Linked DNA regions of Homo sapiens: region 1 is linked to region 2. Evidence: fine-mapped QTL for protein levels in blood plasma. Region 2 holds a variant in brackets. A gene starts in the other region. All regions are shown on their forward strands. Region 1 holds the start of IFNL1 (interferon lambda 1). Region 2 overlaps PSMD14 (proteasome 26S subunit, non-ATPase 14).

What was found. PIP is the posterior inclusion probability: the model's chance that the variant is causal. Protein levels are from antibody-based Olink assays in UK Biobank. Linkage for the fine-mapping came from a reference panel and not from the study's own genotypes, which makes the PIPs less certain.
Region 1: it holds the start of IFNL1, and the variant in region 2 is fine-mapped to the plasma level of the IFNL1 protein (UK Biobank, PIP 0.98).

The regions. Positions count from the first base shown.
Region 1 is chr19:39,294,561-39,297,430 of GRCh38, forward strand. It overlaps IFNL1 (interferon lambda 1), which reads left to right and starts at 1,847. Exons shown (of 5, transcript NM_172140.2): 1 at 1,847-2,032; 2 at 2,245-2,322. The coding sequence starts at 1,862.
Region 2 is chr2:161,386,075-161,388,991 of GRCh38, forward strand. The region is part of intron 8 of PSMD14 (proteasome 26S subunit, non-ATPase 14); the gene reads left to right. Among named protein-coding and RNA genes, the nearest start is that of TBR1, 29 kb to the right of the region's middle. The variant G/C (reference allele first, on the strand shown) is at 1,284.

The DNA.
Region 1 (2,870 bases), not on the chromosome of region 2:
AGAGAGAGAGAGAGAGAGAGACTAGATAGATGAGAGAGAGATAGGAGGGGATTTATTAGGGGAATTGGCTCAGACAATTAGGGAGGCTAAGAAGTTCCACAACAGGCCATCTGCAAGCTGGAGAACCAGGGAAGCTTGTAGTGCAGCTCAGTTCCAGAATAAAAGCCTCAGGACTTAGGGGGTAGCTAGTGCAAGTCCCAGCATTTTTTTTTTTTCTGAGATGGAGTCTCACTCTGTTGACCAGGCTGGAGTGCAGTGACATGATCTCAGCTCACTGCAGCCTCCGCCTCCAGGGTTCAAGCGATACTCCTGCCTCAGCCTCCCAAGTAGCTGGGACTACAGGCCTGTGCCACCACGCCTGGCTGATTTTTATATTTTTAGTAGAGATGGGGTTTCACCATGTTGGCCAGGCTGGTCTCGAACTCCTGACCTCAAGTGATTCACCTGCCTCAGCCTCCCAAACTGCTGGGATTACAGGCGTGAGCCACCATGCCCAGCTGCACATCCCAGCATTCAAAGACCAAAGAGCCTGGAGTTCTGATGTTTAAGGGCAGGTGCAGGGTGTCCCAGCTCATAAGAGAGAGCAAATTCTCCTTTCCTCTGCCTTTTTGTTCTATTCAGGCCCTCGGCCAATTGGATGGTGCCCACCACATTGGGTAACAACGGGTCTTCCTTACTCAGTCCATTGATTCAAATGCCAATCTCTTCTGGAAACACCCCAGAGTCATACCCAGAATTAACGCATCACCAGCTATCTGATAAACTTAACCAGTCAAGGTGACACCTAAAATTAACCATCACAATTATAAAAATAACTACTCAGAGAAACATTAGGAGCATGAACTGAAATTAGTTAATGGGACATTCTTAAACCAATGGCAGAAGCTCCTTCTTGGCCAGGAGCAGTGGCTCATGCCTTTAATACTAGCACTTTGCGAGGCTGAAGCAGGAGGATGGCTTAAGGCCAGGAGTTCAAGACTGGCCTGGGCAACATAGTGAGACCCCTATCTCTACAAAAATAAATAAATAAATAATAAAGTAAGGTGGTGGCTCACGCCTGTAATCCCAGCACTTTGGGAGGCCAAGGCAGGCAGATCATCTGAAGTCAGGAGTTCGAAGCCAGCGTGACCAACATAGTAAAACCCAGTCTCTACTAAAAATACAAAAACTAGCCAGGCGTGATGGCATGCACCTGTAATCCCAACTACTTAGGAGGCTGAGGCAGGAGAATCGCTTCAACTCGGGAGGCAGAAGTTGCAGTGAGCCAAGATTGCACCATTGCACTCCAGCCTGGGCAACAAGAGCAAAACTACGTCTCAAAAAATAATAATAACAATAAAATAAAAAACAAGCTTTTTTTTTTTTGAAACAGGATCTCACTCCATCACCCAGGCTGGAGTGCAGTGGCACGATCTTGGCTCACTGCAACCTCCGCCTCCCGGGTTCAAGTGATTCTCATGCCTCGGCCTCCTGAGTAGCTGAGACCACAGGCGCATGCCACCACACCTGGCTAATTTAGAATAAAAAAGAAGCTTCCTCTCTGCCACTCAGGTAGCCTTATCCCTAATCTCAGCCTCCGTCAGGGACTCCCTGAGGCCAGTTGGCTGAAAGCTGCCCAGGGAGTTCTAAGGATTTCAGTTTCTCTTTCCTTCTTGATGCAGCTCCCAGCTCACTTGGCCCTGCCCACACCTGTTCCCTCATCAGGCTCCCAGACGGGCCCCGCCCACTCATGCCTCTTAAGTCAAAGTGGAAATTCTCATTTCCAATTACCTTTTCACTTTACACACATCATCTTGGATTGCCCATTTTGCGTGGCTAAAAAGCAGAGCCATGCCGCTGGGGAAGCAGTTGCGATTTAGCCATGGCTGCAGCTTGGACCGTGGTGCTGGTGACTTTGGTGCTAGGCTTGGCCGTGGCAGGCCCTGTCCCCACTTCCAAGCCCACCACAACTGGGAAGGGCTGCCACATTGGCAGGTTCAAATCTCTGTCACCACAGGAGCTAGCGAGCTTCAAGAAGGCCAGGGACGCCTTGGTGAGTTCCTGTTGCTGTGGATGAACCACTTCTACGGGTGTCCCAATTACTGCCCTTCTACTGTGGGCTAGCCTCTAGCCTTCCAACTATGGCAAACCTCTATCCTTTCTGCACTGGGTTAAACCCATGCTGTCAGGCCAACTTCATCCTTGCTGCTATGAGCTAGCTTCCAGCCATCCTGCTGTGGGCTAACCCCTGCCCTTGCTCTCTAGGAAGAGTCACTCAAGCTGAAAAACTGGAGTTGCAGCTCTCCTGTCTTCCCCGGGAATTGGGACCTGAGGCTTCTCCAGGTGAGCTGAAAGTCAGGCCCCCTTCACCCTTCCCTTGACCCTCTCCCCCCTCTTCTTAAGTGGCCCCTTAGCCTTCTTTGTTTCCCTTGTCCTTCACTCTCTTGGACCTCTCCTCACCTGTCCTGTGCCCCTGCCACTTCAAAACTGCTCTCTTGACTCTGTCCTTCCCCTGGGTCCCTTTTATCATCTCCCATCGGCCCCACTTCCCTAGCTCGCTCACCTGTCCCTGTCACTTCCACTCTCACTCTTCATTTCTCTCCCAAATGTCTCCAGTCTGTCGCCCACCTGTGCCTTTCGTCCTGCTCCACTTCTCCCTGTCTGTTCCCAACACTGACCCCCTCTCCCTCTCACCTGCCTCTGTCACCTGTCCCTCATTATCTCTCACTGACATTCATCCAGCTCATGCTCCCCCCTCATCCACCCTTCTCTTTTTTTTTTTTTTTTTTTTTTTTTTGAGACAGAGTCTTGCTCTATGGCCCAGGCTGGAGTGCAGTGGCATGATCTCGGTTCACTGCAACCTCTGCCTCCCGGGTTCAAGCAATTATCCT
Region 2 (2,917 bases):
GAGTTTATGTCTTGTTTTTTATTGTGATAGTCAATTACCATTAATTGCAGTTACTGGTATTCAGACACTTAATATCCTCTTGAGTGATTGTTTTCTTTGTATCATTCACATGCCATGGTGTTTTTATACAAATCTTTATTTTCTGCAAAAATTATTTTAAATGTGTTTTTAAACGCACCACAGTCTGTGTCTATCTAGTTAATTACTACTCTAAAGATTAATTAAAAGGACAGAAATACCATGTTTGGTTAAGTAGAATACATAAAACAAAGACATTATAGTAGCTATTGCTGCTCCCTTCTGAAACCTTGCTCTGTCATGAGGTTGTCTTTGGGGAGTTGTGGCTTTGACAGTTAACCATGGTTAAGCCTTGGTTACACTTTGATAACTTTATACTTTTAAATGCTTAATTTTGGGGCAGTCACTCATCTGTAATCTTCATCAAAGTGAAGTGTTTTGTTTTAAAGGATTGAGGTGTGTTGATTTGAAAAAAAAAAATGCAAGTCAAGGAAAACTGCAAAGTATAATGTGTATGAAATAAGCTACCAGTGGTTTTGATTGGGTACAGACAAGCCTGTACTTGCATGTTCCAAGAGAATATATTATTGGACCTGTTTAGCCTTGATAATGACCTTTCTTATAAACTTCGGTAGCATCATACTGCTTCATTATTTTTTGCAAAAGGTTAAGTAGCATCTCACAAGCCAAGATCATTGTGATTACTACATGGTATGTTTCTGCCAGAAGTTTTTACTAATTGCAAGTCACTCACCACCTGTTGCAGATTTCTTTTTTAAAATTAAAGCACTGCTTTTTAACCTTAAAAATCGACTGTAATCAATATTAATAACGTGTTTTTTCTATACCAGTCCAGTTTGTATTTTTTAATCTTACCTTATAGCCTGTAATTTAAAGTGCACCTTATAAAGCAGGTTCCAAACCTGTGTTAAACAACATGTGTATGTAACAACTACAGCATCATTATTTTTCCTTTCATTTTAGTTTGTTTTGCCTTCCAGTTAGAACCTGTAAATATATTTATTTCACAGTTTATATAGCGCCTACCAGAATGACATCTATCTGGGTGCTCTACAGTTTTAAGACAATTTCAATACTAAAACACACAAATGAGACCAAGCCAACAAGTGACAGAACAAAGCCACACCTTAATACACTTTCTTATTTTTCTAAGACAAGCTAGAAAGCAACCCAGAAGAGCCTGAAGGGAATGGTAATATCTGTAATGGAATTTTATTTTATGTTAGCAGGATCTTTAACTCTGG[G/C]ATCAGAAACCTTTCAGAAATGCCATGCCTTTTATTTTGAAGGGGGAGTTAGCTGGTGTTAAGAGGGGCCTTGCTCCTAAACCAGCTTTCAAGTAGTAGGGATAAAAGTCTGATAACAGCCATCAGCTCACATGCTGGTGGTCACTAATGATTTTCTAACAGATTTTTTTTTACTCTTATACTTAGTAGTAGAGAAAAATTATGATTCACTGTAGACTGCTATTTAATAACTTGGGGAAAGTTCAAATATGTTAAGTAAGAAAAGATTATAAAACAGAATATATCAGTTCTCCATTCTGCAAGTGTATATTTTATAGATGGTGCCTATATATTTATACCAGGATATTAGCATTGGTTACCTTTGGATGGTAGAATTATGAGATTTTTTTGTCTTTCCTTGTCCATATTTCTTAAATTTTTTTACAGTGAAACATATATTGCTTTTAGAAAATGTTATTTTTTAAAGTACTACTTGACAGTGTTGAAATAAGCTAAGAGACAAAGGTTATTTTCACGTTCATGTTTTATATAATAGAAGCCACTAATAATCCTGATAGAGAGGAGAAAGTATAATGCCTATCCTCTAGGCTTTTATATTAATATATGATAATGTATATTATTTTTATTTTGCACTTGGAACATTTGGCTATTACTTTCAAATGTTTAGAATTGAGAGTTAACAAGCATTTATTTTAGTAACTAAATTTTTTAAACTATTCCATTATAAACTGTTCAGTGACATTTTGGATTCTTAAGTGTCACAGTAAATTTGAAGATTGGTAGTCAGTCTCATGGAAATTTACTAAATATTGATGCATAGATGCATGTGCTAAGGCTAAGAGCCTCTAAGTATAGTCTTGAGTACAGTTGCATTGTTTAATAGAGTTAAGCTATTTGGAAAACATTGTTTCAGTAATTACTGAACATATAAGTTATAAAACAATTGCACTAGAAAGGAGCCATTGTAGTCATTTAGTACATGAGGAAACCTGAGGCCCATAAAGTTGAGTTGCCCAGGTAATCCAGTGAGGTAATGTAGGAACTAGTACTCATAACCAGACTGCTTCATTCTTTTATATTATCATTGGAAATTTAATTAATTAATTTTGGCATAGAAAATATATATACAGTTAAAAAAATTTAAAGTACAAAGTCATTTAGCAAAAACTCTCCCTTCCTCTTTTGCCTTCTGCAACTCAGTTCTCCACTCTAGAGGGAACCACAAAACACATTTTGTTTCTTTTCAGTTATTCTATTTATATTCAAAAAGCTTCATTTTAGAACGTGATTTAAAGGATATCAGTTACCACCGTATTTTCAGTTTATCAATATAAAATAAATTAAGGCAAACAAATTTGTCTTTAGATCCAAGCACACCTTTTTAAGGAGCATGAAAACTTTTAAAAACTTATCAGGAACCCATGAATAGCTTATATATAATCCGTAAGCCGTGTGTTTTATAATGCACCTGCTTTTCCACAGCAGTGAGTGCATAGAGGTAAAATCATAAGTCAGTTGGTCTTGTGTAGTTCTACATGAACCCAAAAAGGACATGGCCGGTTGACTTATGATTTGGGAGGAAGGCACTGGGGGCACACAGCAGGTGAGTAAGTGAAATTGAAAGACTACTTGAG